Linked DNA regions of Homo sapiens: region 2 is linked to region 1. Evidence: fine-mapped expression QTL. A gene starts in region 1. The other region holds a variant in brackets. All regions are shown on one strand. Distances are from middle to middle.

What was found.
Region 2: its variant is fine-mapped to the expression of MEIS1 in whole blood (TOPMed, PIP above 0.99). The same link has a PIP of 0.9 or more in blood mononuclear cells.

What each region holds. Positions count from the first base shown.
Region 1 is chr2:66,429,568-66,439,958 of GRCh38, forward strand. MEIS1 (Meis homeobox 1) reads left to right here and starts at 5,558. Exons shown (of 13, transcript NM_002398.3): 1 at 5,558-6,301; 2 at 8,170-8,396; 3 at 10,276-10,391. The coding sequence starts at 6,290. It overlaps MEIS1-AS3 (MEIS1 antisense RNA 3), which reads right to left and starts at 3,903. Exons shown (of 4, transcript NR_046438.2): 1 at 3,724-3,903; 2 at 2,364-2,443; 3 at 2,253-2,271. MEIS1-AS2 (MEIS1 antisense RNA 2) reads right to left here. Exons shown (of 2, transcript NR_046625.1): 2 at 9,520-10,122. RefSeq lists enhancers at 3,732-4,084, 4,954-5,830, 5,418-5,517, 9,874-10,391, a silencer at 4,610-4,709 and a promoter at 5,316-5,856.
Region 2 is chr2:66,492,220-66,502,610 of GRCh38, forward strand. The region is part of intron 7 of MEIS1 (Meis homeobox 1); the gene reads left to right. Among named protein-coding and RNA genes, the nearest start is that of MEIS1-AS2, 57 kb to the left of the region's middle. The variant T/C (reference allele first, on the strand shown) is at 5,711.

The sequences.
Region 1 (10,391 bases):
GATTCTATAGCGGAACTTTGCATGATGCATCTATGTTTTTTACTACATTTAACATACAACTCAGTCCACAAAATTGAAGGTTGTATTTCAAATGCACTTACACATAAATGCATATATAATAGGTACTTGGGAAGGGGAATAAATTCTCTTGATGAAGTTTTGTGGGATAGCTTTTGGGGGATATTGGAGAATGAGGCCAGTAGAAACAACAGTTGGGACTTTGCCTCTTTCAGAGCAATGCATGACTTTGGCTAATATTTATATTTTACTAAAAGGCTTCTATTTCCTTTTCATTCTGCAGACACTCCTTATGTAGCAGTTTGGGGGGGAGGGTAAAGTGTGGGCTAATAACTCATTTCCCAGTTAATTTTATTAAGAATTTATAGCACTGTTTAGAAAGTTTTAAGACAACCATAAATTTTATTAGGAATACTTTATTAAGCCCTCCATTTAATTAATAAAAGACCTCTATAACTTCTGAAAATGTCAGAGCTAGTAATTATGTTAACCAGTGTAGTTTTTTCCCCCCTAGAGACCAAAGCATTTTAATGATTTGAAATAGAATAGTAAGGAAAGCACCTCCCTCTCACCCCCCATTTTTTTTCCCTAATTTTTGCATCATCCAGTCAGAATATAGTAACTTAGGTATTTTCCCTGCAACCCTTGGAGAGCCTAAGCTGACCTCTAATTGACTTCTGAACTGGACCCAGACATTCTTTGTTTTCTGAAGCAAAATGCAGTAAACAAATCTTTCAGTCCTTATAGCCTGTAATGCTTTAGAGCACTTGATTAACATCCTCCCTAATCCTCTCAGTTAACCCCCTTTGATATCACCTAACCAGGTTTCCCCCTTTAATAGATCTCTCAATAGTTTATTTCACTTTTCTCACAGCCATTCATTAGCTTTGACTTCTTGGTGCCTTTCTCATATCACCTCCAGGCTCTTATCTCCAGCATTCCTCTATTATCTGTACTAGATTTCGAATCTATTTTCTTTAAACTATCTTTCCCTCCCTCCTCTTATTTCTGTTTTTTTGAAATGTCAATGCTAGTGAGGGGGAGAGATGCAGAGGATGAATGTTTTTGAAATACAAACGCCAAGCCTCCACACCACAGGACAACCTAAAAACCAATCACAGCATTTTAAGGGACATCTTAAAGTTTGGTGGCAAATGATAAACCCTTATCATTTTGTGAACACAGCTGCCAAACTCGATTGATTAACAGGCTTTTGTTTATTCTGGGCTGGCAAATACACACACGTTTTACCTTAAGAGGTGCCTCTTTAGTTTCTAAGGGTTTTGGAGCTGACTCATCAGTGTGACCTTTTGGGACAAAAGCCTAATTTAGGATATAGATCTTTCCAGAAGCACAATTCCTTATAGAACATAAAGTCAGGGGAGTTCTCCGAGACGACTTTACCAGCAGCTCAGAGGAGCACTGAGGGCTTGAAATGCCTCCATACAGGAGGGTGTAAACAATAGAGACCAAGGGCCCAGTCTGCCTCCTTTTGTCACCGTTCTCTATCTCTGGAAAGATGCTCTGAGATAAGAAGGATGAGAAGAGAACGGAAGGCCTGAATCGCAAGAGCTAGGGCCAAGTGCCAGAAGTTTTCACCAGGCCAAGTTTTTGCAAAATAAAAGTGCTATTGCCTTAAAAAAGCAAGTATCTGAAATAAGTTAGGAATAGGGGCTGTCAAAAAATGGGCATAAATATTGACAGTAGTTTACTAAGATACCTAGACCTGTCCCTTCATTTGTTTCCTTTTAATAGATGATTAATTGCTGCCCTGCTAAAGGAGTTTTTTTTTTTTTTATGGCTACTATATTGCAACTCTAGACATCCTCTGTGCAATTTCTCTCAGCAAGCCCCAACTGTAATAACTGTTTGCTAATTGTAAAATCCTTATCCAGAATGAGGTTTGGGCAAACAATTTGTACTACTGTAATTACATTGTAAAAGTGTTTAGTCCCTTGATTGTTCAGAATTAATTGTATAAAGGCCTAGAAGTTATATTAGGTTCACAGTTTAAAATGGAAAGACTGTGGGGGGGGGGAGGGGCACTTTTCAAAACTACTGAGTTGATTTTAAGTCCGCAAACTCAAACTATCTCATTCTTTAAGGAAAATTTGTGTGTAGGTAATTTAAAGTACATTTTTAAGGTAATCTGGCACATCATGGTTAAAGCATGCAGTCGTCTAGTCTTCCTCCTGCTTTGAAGATTTTGGTTATGTTTGCAAAGGGTGACTTACCTGAACCTTCTTTTCTCATCTGTGCTAGAAAACAAAAGAAAAAGATTACCGGAAAGCAACAATACAAAATAAATCCTGTTGTCAAATATATATATATATATATATACTGACCTTTTCCAAATTTGAAAACGTGGCCGCAGAGTTGTGGTAAATCCAAGCCCCGTTACCTCTTTGCCGAAGAACCCCTGAGGCTGTTAAAGACCACAGTCCTCTAAGCGTATTTCGCAATAAATTTCTCTCAGTTAAATTATACTTACACAATTTCCCTCGCAGTTCATTTAAGGATCATAAACGTAGGTGTGCCCTGTCGGTGTTTGGTTTGACCCCCACCTCCCACCCACGCATCTCCCTCCTACCCCCGAGTCGCGCAGATGCCTGGCGGGCCTGATGCGGGGACGATGATCACACCCCCGCGAGCAGCCATCGGAAGGCGCTCAGGTATACCCCGAAGTCGGCTGGGGTTCCGGGAAGGGGTCGCAGACTGCCGGCCCAGCTTAGTCCTTTCCCTAATCGGAAAAGGAGCGTGCTGCCTGGCCCAGCCAGCGCAGCCTCCCAAGGATTAAACAGAAATCGCCTTCCTGAGACGGGGAGGTTCCATCTTGGCCTGAAATTCTGCTTCCAAGTTCATGTTGTGGGGCCGGGGAGCGACGGTGAGGCGTGGGGTGGGGGGGTGGGGGGATGGGGGGAGGCCGGGAAGTGTAGGCAGAGGCATAAAGGCGCTGGTAATGCACCTGGCTGCCCACCCACTCCGTCCCCAGCTTTTACTCGCGGGCCTGTCTTAACCTCCCAAGTGATGTTTCAGGGCGTTTGTACCAGAAAACCTACACATGTATGTGATGGAAAAAAACTAAAAGATCCTGAAACTTAAGCGTCAGAAAAAAGACAGGGAGAAACAGAGAGAAAAAGGAGAGAGGAAGCAAATGATAAGGGATCCTGGAGATGGTTTAAACACACACACACACACACACACACACACACACACACACACACACACACACACACGAGGGAGAGCTCTTTCAAGGCAAAGCGCTTCTGAAGGTTTTGGGAGAACGTGTGTCAGCCCTTCAGGCACACAGGGTGCCAGTACGGAGTTGGGGGCGGGGAAGGGTGCAGTGCAGGCGGCTGGGAAGGCTCATCTGCTCGGCTTTATGGAAACGCTCCACTGTTGGGGGCAACCAACCCCGCGTTGACTCCTGCGAAGTGCTAAAGGAAGCGATAGATGTCGCCTAAGGAGACTACGGACGCTCGGTGGAACCTCATTCCAGACCTATGTTCTCATGCTCGCCCTGTGTCTCCTGCTCCTCGGAAGCCCACTCTATAGAATCTTCAGTCCTACCTCGCAGACGGACGCAAATTATCTTTTACTTTGCGCTTAAGAGTTGGCTTCAATACATTTTAGAGCTCCTAACCTTTCCCAAACAATCTTCGGATGAAGGGATACCCCCAATCTTGCTCAAAACTCTTTCCCTACCTACACCCCCTTGAGGGTGAGGGTTCAGTCCGCAGCTGGCGAGTGGGACGTGGGTGGGGGCGATGGAGGCGCGGGCGGGCTGCTTGGAGGGAGTCAGCCTTTTGGCCACCTTCAGGGCGGGAATAGGGACTGGCAGTTCGCATTCCCCGCAGATCGAAGCTCCCTGCTGATCGATTATTTGATAATTGATTTTCCCCGCAGCCAATGCGCGGCGGCCTGGGCGGGGGCGCCTCCTGATTGGCCGAGCACTCCTCCACGGCTGCCTACCGAGATTTGGGTGAGCTCATTTTCCAGTCGACCGCAGGGGGAGTTTTCTGCGAGGTTTCAGCTGGAGGGAGGGGGAAAAATCCTCTCGGAGCCGAGCGAGCTGCGAGCCCTGCTTGTGGATGTGAGGTTTCCAGCCACTGGTAGAGCTGCTGCGGCTGAGCCATCTCGGCAGATCAGAGCCCAGCGGACAGAAATATAAATACGAAAATAACGCCACTAAATATAATCACAAGGGAGAAGCTTAGAGCGGGAGAATAAAGAGAAGGGGTGAGGGGGAATTAAAGCCCAGGCAATAGGTGTTAAAGTTAAAAACAAAACAAAACAAAAAACAGTGGTTGGTTGGAGCCTCCGAGTTGTAGGTACAGGCAGCTTTTGTCTGAAATCTCAGCTTCCGAAGCGGATTTCTTTTTCTCTGGCACTGGGAGGTTTCGCCGAGCCGGGTTGGGGACGGGAAAGAGGAGCGCGGGGAAGGATGTCTGGGGTGGTGAGGGCAGGGCTTCGCTGGAGAAAGAGCTAGTGGGGCGCGAGGTTCTTACAGGCCCGGGAGAGGTCGAGGCTGGAGCCCCTCGGCGCCTCTAAGACAAAGGCAGCGGTGGCTGCAGCCGGAGCCTAGCACTCCGGCAGCGTCGCGCCGCGCCGCGCCGCGCCCTGGGCGCACGGCCGCCTCACCCCGAGCGGGTCGGAGAAAGAGCCTCCCTCCCAGCGGCTCCCCGGCCCCGGCTCCGCCCGCGAGGTCTGGGCTGCTGCGAGCCCGCGCCGGGTTTCGCTTTCCGACGATCATAAATAGCTTGGTGTTTGTAAACAGGCGCTGGGGGCACATTCCCCGCGCTCAGCTCATTGTTCCCTCCCTTCCTCTCTACTTCGCGCAGGACGCCTGGGCTGGGGCTGGGAGCCGCCGGGGCTAGGAGGTGGGGGAGTCCAGACCCGAAGTGACAAAATGCTAGCATTTTCTTTCCCCCGGCCGGGCGTCCACCTCTAACAGCAAAGAAACCTCTAAGCTGGGTCTGCAGAAAGCCCGAGCCACCTCAACCCCATGTTCTCAGGACTCCTTAGCAGAGGCTTTCCCAACCTGGCTTCTCCCTCCTTTTCCTCCACGATCCCGCTTTGACTTTTCTCCTTGCAGTGTTTAGTTCTGAGAATTCAGTACTTTGCGCATCACCCCCTGCCCCGAAAAACACTGGCAGACCCCAATAATTTCGAGGAAAGTCATGAAGTCTATGCGCGGAGCCCTGTGCAAAATAACTCCCGCTGCTGCCTGCCCGGCGTTGATTCCCAATTTATTTCAAGAGAGTCGGCTTTGGGGAGAGAGTCTGCAGGGGGAGGGAGAGAAAAGAATACTGAAAATAAAGCTGGCGGCCGCGGGCTACTGCCTGCGTTTGTGTGCGTGTGCCCTGGGTGTGTGGTGTTTGTGCCTGGGCGTGCGATTTAATGGAGCGCCTCTCTGCCTCTCCAGTGCGGCCAGAGCTCGCTTCGCGCACCCACCCCTGCCGAGGAGCCTACTTGCTGCAGCCCAATGCATTGTGTAAGACGCGACCTGTTATGGCCACCACTACTTCCGGGTTCTAGCATTCTGGTCGGAATCCACCTCTCCGCCTGTGCAACACACACTTTACACACGCACGGGGACTGCAAGCGGGCAGCATCGATCGTGGCTCCTTTAAGACAAACTCAGACAGACATTTTTTTTAACCCTCCTTCTCTAATCTCCTTCCAGTGCAGCACTTGCAAAGAGGGAGAGAGAGGGAGAGAAAGAAAGAGAGAGAGAGAAGAGAGAAACTGATTAGGAATTAGGACTGATTCAAGGGAAGCGAGCGCTAGGGCTTTGTGCATTTGAATATTAACATTTGAGGTGTTCTGACCAGAAGAAGACAGAGCGGATGATCATTCATTCACCACGTTGACAACCTCGCCTGTGATTGACAGCTGGAGTGGCAGAAAGCCATGAGATTTGGTAGTTGGGTCTGAGGGGCGCTCTTTTTTTTCCTTTTCTTTCTTTCTTTCTTTTTTTTTTTTTAAACTGATTTTTGGGGGAGAGAAGATCTGCTTTTTTTTGCCCCCGCTGCTGTCTTGGAAACGGAGCGCTTTTATGCTCAGTGACTCGGGCGCTTTGCTTCAGGTCCCGTAGACCGAAGATCTGGGACCAGTAGCTCACGTTGCTGGAGACGTTAAGGGATTTTTCGTCGTGCTTTTTTTTTTTTTTTTTTTTTTTTCCGGGGGAGTTTGAATATTTGTTTCTTTTCACACTGGCCTTAAAGAGGATATATTAGAAGTTGAAGTAGGAAGGGAGCCAGAGAGGCCGATGGCGCAAAGGGTACGTATTAAAAAACAATTGTGGAACTCAAATGTGAGATTAAATTGAAACGTGGCCGAAAGACACTGCTAAAAAGTTTCCTTTTTTTCTCTCTCTCTTTTAAAAAATGAGGCTCCTAAAGCCGTGGCCTAAGCGAGAGGATTTATTCAATGCATTTGTAGACTTATGTATGTTACTTGGAGTTGTTAATTAAAGGAATCTATTTATCTATAGATTCCTAACCAGCAGCTATATAAATAAAAATGCAAGCTCAAACAATCATCTGGGTTTTTTTTTAAAAAAGCTAGATACCTAAAGCTGTAATTTGAACATTCAGAGATCAGAAGTTTAAAGTTATGTTTAAACTAAAATATGCAGCTGGAAACTTCTGATATGTTATTGATTATGCTCATCTTTAATATCACTAGAAGTATTCAGCTTTTTAAAGGAAATAACTTTGTCATAGTATAGCCAATTTTTTGGTCAGAAAACATTCATCTTTTTATAGTAATTTCAATTTGTATAGACTTGTATACAAGGCAATATTTTGCAAGTTTCTCTTAGATAAGCCCTCTACTAATTGAATACTAAGCACACAGTTACTCACTTTAAAAATGCAATACTAATTTCCCCATATTCCTTTTTCAATGGAAATGCAGTGAGAGTAAAGTGAGACAATGACAACCCAACTGAGGTAGTTTCTTAAAAGAAAGGGGGTCTACAAAAAGCCTTCCTTGCATAATTTGTGTCCTGGCCCTCAAAGCCCTGTTTGCAAAAGAAAGTTACTAGGCTGACACAGTTTTCTTTACTCCTTTGGTTCAGGCAAATGTCAGCGTTCTTCCAAACTCTTTTCACACCTCTGGCTTTAAGGAGATGAAAGTGGCAATTCCTCCTTTCTTTGAAAATCATTTCACTCTCAGCGCCTCCAAATCTTGGGAAAATAACTGCCTGGAATGAACCAATTAGAAAAACCTAAATAGCTAAATTTCACACACACAAAATAATGACAATCAATATGAAAGTAGTTTTTTTTTTTTTTTTCTGGAAGAGGAAGATGGAAAGTTGTGCATTTGCTTTTGAATTTGCTTTAAACCTGGTGAGTAACATTTGCCTCCTTGACTTCTAGTCTGGAAACAAAGTTCATAAGAGTAAATAAGAAAATAGAATATTAGCTGCTTCAACTATAGATTTTCTTTAACTTTGGGGGTGGGGAATTGCCCAATTCTAAATTCAGCTCTGATGTTCAGGAAAAGCTACCCTCCTTTGAGTTTCACTTATAAGGGGTCAGTTAGTTTTGTATAATTTAGCAGAGTTTGTCTTGGAAAGCAAAAGAAATGCAGTGTCTTGTAGGACTGCCTAACCTCACGCTGGCAGGGAAATAAAATGAGAAGCCTGTCTAAATTCACGTGCTTTGCGTAGCTGTTCCCATCGTAACTTTTTTTTTTTTTTTTAATTCCCCCTGATGTGAAGGGGCTGTGAAACTAGGCGGGTTTGCTGCAGTGTCCTGGCACGTTTTATTATTGTGATTTTGAATTTCTTCCTCCAGAGACATGCCCGTTTCACCTTCTACCCTCGGGAGAATGCTTCTCTTTCTCTCTTTCTTTCTTCTTTCCTTCTTGCCAAAGGAGCCTGAATTTCTAAACTAGTTGATAGGGACACAAGTTAGGGCAAGATCATTCATCCCAGACGAGTCTCGCTGAGAATTCTGTATTTTTTACTTAAAGCTTTAATTTTAAAATAAGAAAAACTCAGCTTTATAGATGCAAGGCCACCGAATTCCGGGTGGAAGGACCCAGCTGTATTGACCTTATATAAGCTCGGTGCCTTGCCGTTCTCCCATTTGCCCGCCTGGCCTCCTGAACCTTCTTTCTCTCCTGTTTGTCATGCAGTACGACGATCTACCCCATTACGGGGGCATGGATGGAGTAGGCATCCCCTCCACGATGTATGGGGACCCGCATGCAGCCAGGTCCATGCAGCCGGTCCACCACCTGAACCACGGGCCTCCTCTGCACTCGCATCAGTACCCGCACACAGCTCATACCAACGCCATGGCCCCCAGCATGGGCTCCTCTGTCAATGACGCTTTAAAGAGAGATAAAGATGCCATTTATGGGTAGGTACAATGGGCAGCAGGTTAAGTAGTTGAGACTCAACGCTTCCCTCTTTCTCTGTGCCCTTGGTAAGAGGAAAGTCAGAGTTCTCTGGATTGGAGGTACATCTTTGGTGACTTTTCATTCACATTTCATGGATAATTTGGGGAGGTGGCCTGCCATCCCTGAAGCCCTACATCCCCATACACACTCTGTGCACATCCAGTGCCCTGCTCCACCATGGCAGTGCCCGCAAGGGGGTCCCAGATGAGAAGAAGCTGGCTAAAGGGCCCTTGTCCCCTCTCAGACTCCTTCAGCGGGCTGGAGTCCTCCCTCGCTCGATTTCGCCCGAGAGCGTTAGGGGTTTCTAAATGCAGGCGCCTTTGTGTTGTAACGAAACTTTTAGTTTAAGGGAAAATCTCTTTTAAGCCACTGATTGTTCTGACTTGCTGAGTTTACTCAGCAGCCTTATGCTGGCTCTGCCACTGCACAATAAAACCAAAGCAGGACAGTTGCAGGTCAAGCAAGGGGGAACATGTTTTGCATTTAGGGAGTTTGACCACTGAAGTCAAGGAGAGGAGCTTGCTCTGAATTGTTACACACATTAAGAAACTTCTAGATGTTTTAGCACTTTGTGCTCAAAGGCGAAACCTGCAGGATTTAGAAATAAGTAAATTCGGGGTGCTCTTCCTCGGAGGTTGTTTTCTGGCTGCGGTTTATACTGCTTTCTCCTCCGCCATTCGATTAGACCCTGGGCTAGTAGAATCCTTTGAAACTCACTTGTGCCTACTGTGTGCCGATGAATTTGGGAACCTCTTTTTACTTTGCAGAAACTTTTATTTCTATTTATTTATTTTTAAAAAATCAGGACACACTGACCCTCCCTCGCTGGAAAAAAAAATATATATAATCTTTTTATTTTATTTTCTGATCCCTTGTGCGATGGGCTTGTTTAATTCCCACCGTTCTGTCCGCAGAGTTAACTACAAGTGGTTTAGGCTCTGGGACAGAACATTTGGGGAAGCTTTGTAAAGGACCCCAAACTGTTAAATTCCCAGCTGAGCTGTGAGAGCTAATAAAAGACTTGAGATACCTCCTTGGGCATTAGAAGAAGCTTTTCTTTCTTTCTTCTTCTTCTTCTTTTTTTTTTTTTTTTCTTTTTTATGGGCTGAGACAAGCGACATCTAGGCCCCTCGCAATACTAGCTGCTTTGCCACTTCGCAGAGACAAAATGAAAGGCTCTACTGCAGGAACATTTGAAGGAACTTTCTTTGGGGGGCGGTGGGGGCTATCAGCGAAGGGAGGGGAATGTGCGTGGAGCTGAGGAGGAGCCTCCCGGCTCTCCGAGGGCCTTGGGGTTGGGATCCCTAGGTGCAGCCCGTTGACAGTCGGCCCCACGGCCATGGACGTCCTTTCCCCAAGTTAGCTGAGCGCCTGCCACCGAGATCCCCCGAGCCTGGGCTTCGCGCGGCCGCCTAGGAGGAACCCGCAGGAACCAGCCCTCCCCAACTCTCCGCCCGGCGCCTTTCTCCTCCACCGGATCCTGGATGTGCAGTGGAGGGGACGAGGGCTTGTCGGGTGGGAAACTTAATTCAAAATGGCTGCTGGAAACGCTTGGGTTTTATTCGTAGCAAATGTTGCCAATTTCTCCGGCCAGATACGCTAAACCGATCCTCAGATACCGTCCATGGCTCAGGGCCTCCGACTTCAGGGCTCCAGGAGGAAGGGGAGGTGAGCGGTCACCTGGGTCTGGGGGAGGGGGAGGAAAAGGAAAAAAGTAGATGACACAATCGGAGAGGGGGTCTGTTCCTCTTGCTCCTCCAGCTGTTTTTCTTGGGCACCTTTTTCCATTGACTGGGGACTAACCATTATGTTGTTTGTGACTGTTGTATTTTCTTGCAGACACCCCCTCTTCCCTCTCTTAGCACTGATTTTTGAGAAATGTGAATTAGCTACTTGTACCCCCCGCGAGCCGGGGGTGGCGGGCGGGGACGTCTGCTCGTCAGAGTCATTCAATG
Region 2 (10,391 bases), 63 kb after region 1:
CAGCTGACCAGGCAGCCATGAACCTTTCCGTCTGTGTGAACTGTCACCGTGCTTATAGACACAACTCCACATGTTCCGTAGAAGTTGGAAAATAGAATGTGCCTGCAGATTGTTTGGGCCTGTGAGTACAGGATTCAAACCTCCTTAGCAGATTGCTAGATTGAGACTCTGGGTGGATGCTGAGGTCTCAAGTCTCAGTTCAGCTTGGTTTGCTGCACTGAACTCAGCACACACATGGTCGATAACTCTTTCACTTGGCTGCCCTCTCTACCCTGCACTGGAGAAACTGCCTCCTGGGCAACTAAGCTAAGAAAGCTGTTGCTCTCATCTGGCTGGTTTCAGAAGGAGAAGGATGTCAGGAGTATGCAAAAGCTTGTTTCTTTGTGCAAGTCTTCAGCTGATTCTGAGTTGAGTATTCAGCTTGTTCTTTCTTGGAGACTCCTACAGCAGAGGCCCCTGAGAAGTCCTTGGTTGTTTGTGCAGATCTGGCTGTTCCATTCTGATGCACAGGTATTCCACATGGGTGCTAGGAAAAAGTGTGGTTACAAAGTGGCTCTGGGTCATTTGGAATAAATCAGTTGGACAACTCTTTTTTTGTTGTTTTATTCAGGACACTGGAAGTTTGTCTCATTGCTTTAATGAGAGTTGCATCTTCTTAGTTATGCTGTTGAACACATCTGGGGCCTGTTACTGCACCCTTACTCTTAGATAAATTGTAGCACCCATGCCCACACAGGTAGACCTCCTACCTTCATAAAGGGAAGTCAGAGGAAGCTGATACCCCACTCAGGTGGCCTTTAAATTTGAGGGGCGGACTTTGGGACCATGTTGCTTGGCAACAAATAACATATAGCAAAAACAAACACATAAAGATATGACCCATGATATTCAAACTTTAAATTCTATAACACTAGTTTGCTTAAGATATCAGCTGCTATACGGTAAAGTTTTTAAGGCAGCTGTAATTTGCGGAAATGCTGGCATTTACTTTTTCCATAGTCTTATCTTGAAGGCATAAATTGGAACTAAATCTGGGTTCAAGCCCCTTCTCATTTCTCTGGTACTCTTCCAGTAATATAGTTAACATTTGGATAAGGACGCATATTATGATTCTATCTATAGTTATTTACCCTCTCCCAGTTTAACATGAAGCCTTGCTAGCTTCCTAACTATAATATTTCCACCTTATTTTTTAGTTATGTGTTGGACCCTGAGTTGTCTTAAGGACTGAGGAATTTAAGACTCATTAATATTTTTATTAGTGTTATTTCCTTATAAATGAATTATCCCTTTCAGCTAACTATATCTTTAGAAAATGATCTTGGTTTTCTTCCATCATCATATCAATAATAATAAAATTAGCTAAGAAGTTGTAATTACTCTTCCTATATTCTCTGTGATGTGCTTAAATAGAATATCCACTTATTATGATGTTAATTTCCATTTATTACAAATGAGCAGGAACAAAATGTTCCTAACTGTCTGACTCCACCTTTTCCTGCACATTATGACTCCCCTATAAGTAAACCACACAGCCCACTATCGTATGTTCTCTAATGTACTTTCTAATAAATAAAGCCAGCTTAAAAAAAGATGTTATTCATTACATGTAAAATGATCATTTGAATTGCTTTTACTCTGAGTGACCCATGCATCACTTAATCAGACCCATTTAAACAGAGAGAGAAAGAGAATATGAGAACTGAGTGATCTGTCTGTATTTCATTTGGTGGCAATATGGGCAGAATTTAGTCTAAGAATGATTCTTTAGCCATCTAATTGTTTCCTGAAAAAAAAGTCTTATCTTCAGCATATATAGGTGGTGGTATGATGGGCTGTATAGAAATATAAGTTTAATCTGACTAGTGAAGATCATACTTCATCAGTTCACTTGTGACAAAAAAAGAGTGGCATGATCTCAAAGTTGTTCTCAGCCTTCTCACTCCTTTCAATCAGTTGAATCAACAAATCGATCACTTGTTCCATATGTAATAGCTCTCCCCGTGTAGAAATGAAGAGTTAGCAAACCTCTAGAATGCAAGACCAAATTCTTTGTTAAAGTTTTCTTATAATGAATTCTGTCTATTCCGCATATATGGAAAAACTCAGGGTAAGACACTTAACTTTTTTTCTGTAGAGAAACGAAAGCTGTAAAGGCAAAGGTATTTTTCTACTGCCTCCCCTTCCCACAAACCACTGTATTACTCTAAAGAAATTTATTATCTCAATCTGCTATTCATCTAACAAACTCCAACTGCCTGCTAGTACCAGGCCCTGAGGAAATACAATACTGAACAAGACTCATTTACTATGCTCAAAGAGCTTATAGTCTGGTAGGAATGCTGCATATAAACAGGCCGTGTAAAGGTGGTGTAATATCAGCTATAATTCGCACATGGAAAATGCACCTACCTCTGTATTGGAGGATCCCGGAGGAAGTTCTCCCATAGTCAGGGAATGTTTTACAGTACTTCATGTTTTCCCAAGAACTTTCACATATATGATCTCGCTTGTTCCTCATAACACCCCTTTGAATTAGCCAGTTCCTTATCACCATCACGTCTTTGTGGGTAGAAGAAGGAAGGCTCAGCAAATTGAGTCACTTCATGAAGAGTACCCAGACCGACCTGAGACTGAGGACCCAGGTTCTGACCTTAAGGTTAGTCATGAATGCATATGTTTGGGGAAGTAGGGGAACTTGGAAAGACGAGAAATAGTGGCCCGGTGTTGCGAAATTACTGTTTGACCATCTGGAAATTTGCCCCTGGTTCACAGCCAGGTTTCAGAAGACATGGAACAATCATTCCACATTCACATAGCCTAAGCACAGATTCAGAATGCCCACTTTCCCTCTTCTGACCTTTTTTTTTTTTTTTTTTTTTTTTTTTTAAACTAAGGAAAAGAAGCAAGTCTAGAAGACAGGCAATTAGCATGATCACTCAGGCCAGTTTTTATAATTTTGGTTTTCATCCAAACTAGTCACATTTCATACTTTTAAAGTTTTTAGGCTTTTCTGCTGGAGATCATCTTCCTCACACTGTGATTCTTAAAGGTTATGTATTTTTTTTACCCTGATCATACTTACGTCTTTTGACAAGAGAGAAGACGGACATCCAGCTTTGGGTCTGCAGTGATCCATCATTCAACTTCCGGTCTTTTTCATCATATTAGATTGTGCTAGTACTTGCTCTTTCCTTAAGCTATCTCCATTACAGGAGGGGGAACTTATTGCCCCAAATATAACAGAGATGCCTGACTTATGGAGAGTTACTTCAGAGATGTTTCTGGAAGAAAGAGTTCTTTGGGTATAAATGAGAAACAAGGGGACAGTTGTGTTTCCCACACCATATTTTGGTATCTAGCATGTAAATTATACTCTCATAGACCACCTGGATCTGAATGGCTGCGATCTGGGGCCCTTTCCCAGTTTTGCATGGCAGATGAGGAAAATGCAGGAAACGCTGAGGCTTTGAAGATGTGCTAGAACCTCAGCAACACAGAGCCACTGAGCAGCAAGAGGAGGCTGAGACAGGGCAGAAACACCCCCACTGTTAAGAGTGATGAGGGTTTGGAGCACCTAATCTGGATCTAGAAATTGGCCGCTGTGCAGGCAGCTGGGTGGTTCAAGATCTAGCACCCAAAGAGTGTAGCAAGTTCAGGCCTGGGCATTTCGGCATAACCAGTCTGGTAGGTGGGGCCAGCAAGAAGGAATTCTAGGCCACAGGCCAATTCAGAAGTCAGGCAGGCCTACGATTGGTATTCGGAGATCTGTTTGGGAAGAGATGATCATCCCTCCAGCTGGCAGCACAGGAGAGCAGTATTCAGTTCTGGGGAAAGAAAGGGCTGGGCCAGGGGAGGGGAAGAGAGATTCCCAGCCAGCTGATGTTGGAGAGAAGACTAGATCCAGAAGAGGACCAAGAGCAGAGAAGGAAGTAATTCCTTGGTTTCTGTGACTTCTTTCTCACCCAAGATAGATTTCAGGTTAGCACACTGTGACGTCATCACTGAAAACCTCTCCCCTCCCCTCGGGCGTGGGGGGCAGTGTGTGACTGTTCTTTACTCCAGGCTGGTGATTCAGGAGGCAGCCTTGTTTGTGTTTCCGTATGCCTCCTGCAGGGGAGACTTGCTTTTCTTTGATACATAAATGGTGAGTGAAAAGTAACTCTCCTGTGAGCTTGGTCTCTTTTTTGCTCTTCTCTGGTCGAGCAGCCTGACCAGGCCTGGTCAGTGTGAATTGCCCAATTTCATAGTGTGCACGGGGGTCTCAGGAGAGGGCAATTGCCTCATAACTTTTCTATTAGCAGAATTTCAGATTCCTGACGTGGAGCGATACTTGAAAACCATTTGCGTGATGCTGGGAAATGTTTGCTTTGTCCTTCTTTATGTCCTAGGCATGGGCATTTTTGTCATTTCACTGGGGACTACTTGTAGGCTCTGAAAGCAGGAAGGGGCTTCTCTCAGGCCATGCCCTAGCTAAGCGAGGATTCCCCTCTGTATTTGGATAGCTGGTTGCTCAAGTTCCAACCCTTACATGAGGTTTTTCTGTATGATTTTCTCCTTTATGTTTTGGAGGCACACTCGGGAACGTTCTCGTTTTTTTTTGTTTGTTTTGCAATGTGGCTATTTTTGACTTTACAAAGCATTGGAACTGGCATCCTCCCATTCTTGTGAACTTTCTCTGGATCTGTAAATACTTGGTATTTGTTTTCTTCCTTGTACATTTCAGGGGTGGTTTTTATATTTAACTTTGACTAAGATACACTCACATGCTACTCTGAGAGTACATGCTTCGGTGTCTCTTTTTTCTTTGCCTTCAGTAAAAAGGATAAGATTCAGGGAAGGTTTATGAACTCACTTTATGGGTCAGACATGTGCTGGCTGTGGAGAGCATACAGCAATAAGAAAGGACTGTCTCTACCCTCAGATACCTTTCTAGAGGTTAAAGAAATGCACCTTGATCATTATCATTGTCTCTAATGGAGTAAATGGAAAGGGTAGTGGTAGAATGGTTAGGAGTTTAGCCTCAAGTCAGATCTGGGTTGAATCCACAAGGATTTGTATTCCTTATCTGTATAGCAGCCTATTTCCTTATCTGTGCATTAGGGACATTCAAAGGATTAAATGAGATACTTCAGAAAAGCAAGGATTGTGAGAATTAATTGATCAAAGATCAATGCCAATCTCAGTTTCTGGTATCTAGTAAGTGCTCAATAAATGTTAGTTTTTAGTACTGTTTCTATTATTCTTATTGTCTAGAGAAGAGATGGAAAGTTAGTCCTGTTTTTCGGTAGTGTGTCTCACTTTTCCTGGATCTGAAAGATACTTTCTTAAATGATATAACTTTTTTCCTTATCAGTAAAACAAAAATCTTTGCTGTTAAAAACTGCTGCAGAGGCTTGGCATGGTGGCTCATGCCTGTAATTCCAGCACTTTAGGAGGCTGAGACAGGAGATTTGCTTAAGCTTAGGACTTCGAGAGCAGCCCAGGCAACATGTGAGACTCCATCTCTAAAATAAGATGAATAACATAAAAAATTAAAACTGCTGCAGAAATATTATTTAGAAGGCAGAGGGTGAGTTATCATAAATTAACCTATTTTGTGTGGGAAATGAAAACTTGTACTAGTAAAAATTGCTTTCCAATGTATCCTCATCCACCAATTGGCTGCCAGCTTAATGTGATGGGACTATTTAGGCAGCACTGCCACCCA[T/C]TGTTACTCTGAAGCACACTTGCAAAGTTCCAAGTCACTTTACAAGGCTTTTTTTGGGGGGCTGTGGGGGAAGAAAAAGAAAACAATAGAAAAAAAATGGTATGCCATGTTAGGAGAGTGGGTATAGATATTTTGGAAAAGACTTCTAGGAATGGGAATGGGATGGGGAGAGGTGACAAGAGTAGCAATGGTCATTTTGGAGCTTTGAGTGGGGGATTCAGATTAATGTTCCCCTGTTCAAATGGTGTACTCACTAGCAAAACAAACATAAGAACTCACATTCGCTGAGCTAAGCCACTGCTGCCAAACGATGCGCGAAACATTTTTATATAGCTGATTTTATTTCATCTGCCCCACAACTCTAAGGTGTAAGTACTATTACTAGGTTCATTGTTTCCAGAGGGGTGAAACGGGGCTTTGGAGAGGTTAAATAACTTGCCCAGGGTCACACAGCTATTAAGTGGTAAAGCTGGGATTTACATGAGCCCAGACAAAGAACCCAAGAAGCTAAGCTATTCTCTTGTAATACCTCCAACATAGGAGGCAAGAAGTGAGGTATTATACAGGTTGAGGAGATAAAGGGGAGAGAGGCCTGCAGTGCTAACAGGAGGAGCTGGGATTCATCCTGGCTTGTTCTGATAGGTCAGTTAGTCTTAGAGATACCCATGAGGTCACCTACTCAAAATGGGGCTCAGAGTAGCCTTGTCCCATTCTTGTCCAGTGGGCGCAGCTACAGTCTTCCTGGCCTGGAGTGACTGGAGGCTGTCCCCACGTCCCACTTCAGTGAGGCATTCATGTGCACCCAGCACACTTTCTAGCTTTATTTGCCTGGAGGGGAAGATTCTCCAGAACCTTGTTAAGATGCACAGTGTGGTCCTTGGACTGGCAGTGTGGCCTCGGCAGTCCCTGGGAGCTTGTTAGGAATGCAGAATCTCAAGCTCCTCCCTACTGAATCTAAAGCTGCATTTTAACAAGATCCCAGCTGTTTCGTATGCACATGAAAGTTTGAGCAGCACTGCTCTAGAAAGTTACTTTTATCTTTACTGTGCCCACCAAAGTAATCAAACTTTGTGAAGTACGATTATTTTCAAACAAGCCTACGTCCCTGACTAACCGAGTGGAAGGTGTGAGTGGCACTACAAATTCACAAAAGAACTGTAGCCTCAGATAATCAAAGGAGAGAAGGTCAGATGCAATCACTGATGCATGCTAGTAATTCTCAAACCTTCGTTTTCAGAAACGATTGGATTTTCAGATAGATTTGCAGTAAGAGAATAACAAGTCTTTATTTTTTTCATCCCAACTTCTTTCTTGCACATTTTTCTTCTAGCTATATTTAATATCTGTTCTCCCCACACACTTGCTAATCTACATTTCACAATCTTCTTCCACTTCACTTTGTCTGCAAAGAAATCTACCTGGACAGAATAGCATCTCTTTTTTTCCCCCTGACCCTTGGCATTTCCTCTCCCTCCAACTTCTGCCTGATCCTAGGATGGACTCTCTCATCCCTCATTCTCTATCATTAGCTCTCAGGCTGCCCTTCCTGCACTTTACCTTCCCCCACACCTTCTTACAGGAAAGCAGAATAGAAAGGCATCAGTGAGGGATGAACAGGAGAGTGCCTTGAGAGAAGATTCCCAGGAAGACAGGGAGAGCCAGACAGTGGACTGGTTGCAACCCATGTAGCCGAATCATAGTGCTCATTGCTGTGGAGGCTCTGGTCTGTCTAGCCACACAGACCAGTGAAGTGAGGGTACATAGGTTAAAAAAAAAAAAAAAAAGCTTCTACAGAATACAGACATGTTATCCTGGTGTGTCAATCAGGAAAGATGTGGTCCGGATGAACAGAATTGTACCTTTTTAAATATTATAACTTTTAGGGACATTCTTGATGAAAATGTTTCCACTCTATACATAACTCTCTCATATCTGATTATAACACTTAAAAAATAATTTAAAGTCAGTGGACATATGAGTTTATGCACTGTGCTATATATTTCCTTATTTACACAGCCTGTTAAGCATTTATATGGCTTTTTTTCCTATGCTAAAAGGGCCTTGTGTGCAATGCCTTTTAGGTTCTTGTCTTTTGCCTCTTTATCATCTTATACTTTTACAAAGCTCTCAGCCTACAAACTATGAGGCCAGAAGCTAGATGAGCAAACTTGAGAACTGCATCTAAATTAAATGTAACTGTTCTTCAATTGAGGGTCTTATGATCATTTCTCTGTAGAAAGTATACGAGCTTTACCACATATAATCTATGATTGTAATCTATTGGTTCTTAAGCTTGGCTGTATGTTATAATCAACTTGGAGCTTTAACAGTCACTAATGCTGAAATCTTACCCCACCTCCCAAACTGATTTAATTGGTCTTGAGTGCAGTGTAGGCATCAGGATTTGTAAAAGCTACCACATGATTTAAATGTAGCCCATGTTGAAAAGCACTCCTTCTAATCTGGATGTCAGAAAGCTTTTTAAATTTTTATTTATTTATTTATTTTTTATTGAGATGGAGTCTCGCTCTGTTACCCAGGCTGGAGTGCAGTGGCTCGATCTCCACTTGCTGCAAGCTCCGCCTCTCAGGTTCAAGGGATTCTCCTGCCTCAGCCTCCCGAGTAGCTGGGATTACAGGCATGCATCACCACGTCCAGCTAAGTTTTGTATTTTTAGTAGAGGCAGAGTTTCACCATCTTGGCCAGGCTGGTCTAGAACTCCTGACCTCAAGTGATCTGCTCGCCTCAGCCTCCAAAAGTGCTGGGATTACAGGCATGAGCCACCGTGCCCGGCCAGCTTTTTTATTTTTCAAATCCTGCTTTTCAAGTGTATTTTATTTAATTGAGTTTGTTGAAAAAGTGACCTCAGATAAATAAATGCTATCTTGTTGTGTAAAAGTGTTTGTATATACACACATATATACATGCATAGCAAATACATATGCAGAGTAATATAGAAGTTTAAAACTAAATTACATAGCAAGCTTTTGCAGATATCACAAAAATAAATGTTGTCTTTGTGTGTTTGTGTGTGTATTTGTGTTTGTGTGAGCATATGTGTGTGTATGTGTGTCTGCCTGTCTGTGAGATCCTATATGGGGTACTTTTTTTCCTAAAATGATCTATTTTTGTGGTTATGTAGGAGTTTATGACCATTCATTAATAGAGCATTTATATGTATTTTGGGGAGCATATTATGAGTAATGAACTAGCATTATTAAAATAATTTTAAAAAATAGGCAAGGTACTAGTTCTGAAAATTCTTTCTAAGCTGTTGATTCAAAATAAAAGTTTATGACTTTTGTACTGTTTTACCTTTGCACTTGAAAGTGCAAATATAAAAATAAAGAAAATACTCTTTATTTCCTGAGAAAAAGATTGGGGGATTTCCATTTTATTTTACCAATAATGTAAATGTATAGATTTCAGTATATTTTGCAGTGTACTCACATCCTGAAGTTTCTAAGACTCCATTAAAAAGTTATGCTGTTTTTGCAGGGATTTTTTCAGGGCATTTAGTTGTAAAAAAAAAATGCTGAATAGATGAAAAATGAGTAAAATCTGTGTTTTTTTTTTCTTTCCTATTCATCATTGCTGTTTGTCCTCTGTGTGTAGGCAACCAATTTGCTGTTGTTCCCCTGAGGGGAATTCAAGTCAAAAAGTAATATTGAATTACTAGGAAAAGGTATTCCTATCTCAAAAGAACAAAGTAAAATGATTCAGAAAAAAAAAAAAACTTGGAAAATTTATCCAATTTCCTGGTGTATGTTGTATGTGTCCATGGTACTTTACTTCTATGAACACTTACATAAAATAAATCTTAAGTAAACTATAAATCTGAACACTGACAAACTCCAACGGACAATTCTTAATTTTTATGAATGTAGAAAGTCTGCTATCTTCCTTTAATCCCATCCAATGCACATTCACATTTTGTCAATTTTTTTTTTTCATTCTATGAAAACCTAGTAAATATTTTCATTCTGGGTCTCAGTTATTTGATTTCTTTCCATGTTTTTCACCCAGTTATGTTTTATACATTATTTATGTTGAAAGTGAAGTGATAGAAGCTTAATTGAATGAATTATTTATAGTAAAGAAGTTATTCCACATTTATTTCAACAGGGTGGAAATCCCTGACTTATAAATACTCAAATTGTGAATGACCTAGATATACATACAGATGTTTATATACATACAGCCTAGATCTCTTACTTGTATCTCATTGTGTTACATCCACAGAACTCATTTACTGTCACTGCAATTCCTGTGGAAAAACTTGACGTGTTCAGAAACACATGGCTTCCCAAATATAGGCAGGGGTAAATGGCAGGGATTGTGAGGAAACAGAGGGGAATAGAGGGGAGGCAGAATATAATGATCAGTTTGGAAACTGACCATGAACTCTTTTATAAGAATGGCATCTGTTGATTAAAAAAACAAATCCCAATAGGAGCTGCATGTTTTAAAAACCTTTACTTATTACTTTACCTAAAATTCTGCCATTTAAAGATTCACTCATTTGCAATAACAGATCTTTCAAAGATGCCAACATTTCTGGGAAGGTGAGGAGGCCATCAGTCATTTCACCCCCATCCAAATTAGTTCTTTGAGATTGCTTTTACCTGAAGTCTGGCTTATATCAACAAGCCTGAAACGATGGACATTTTGATTGTTGGGA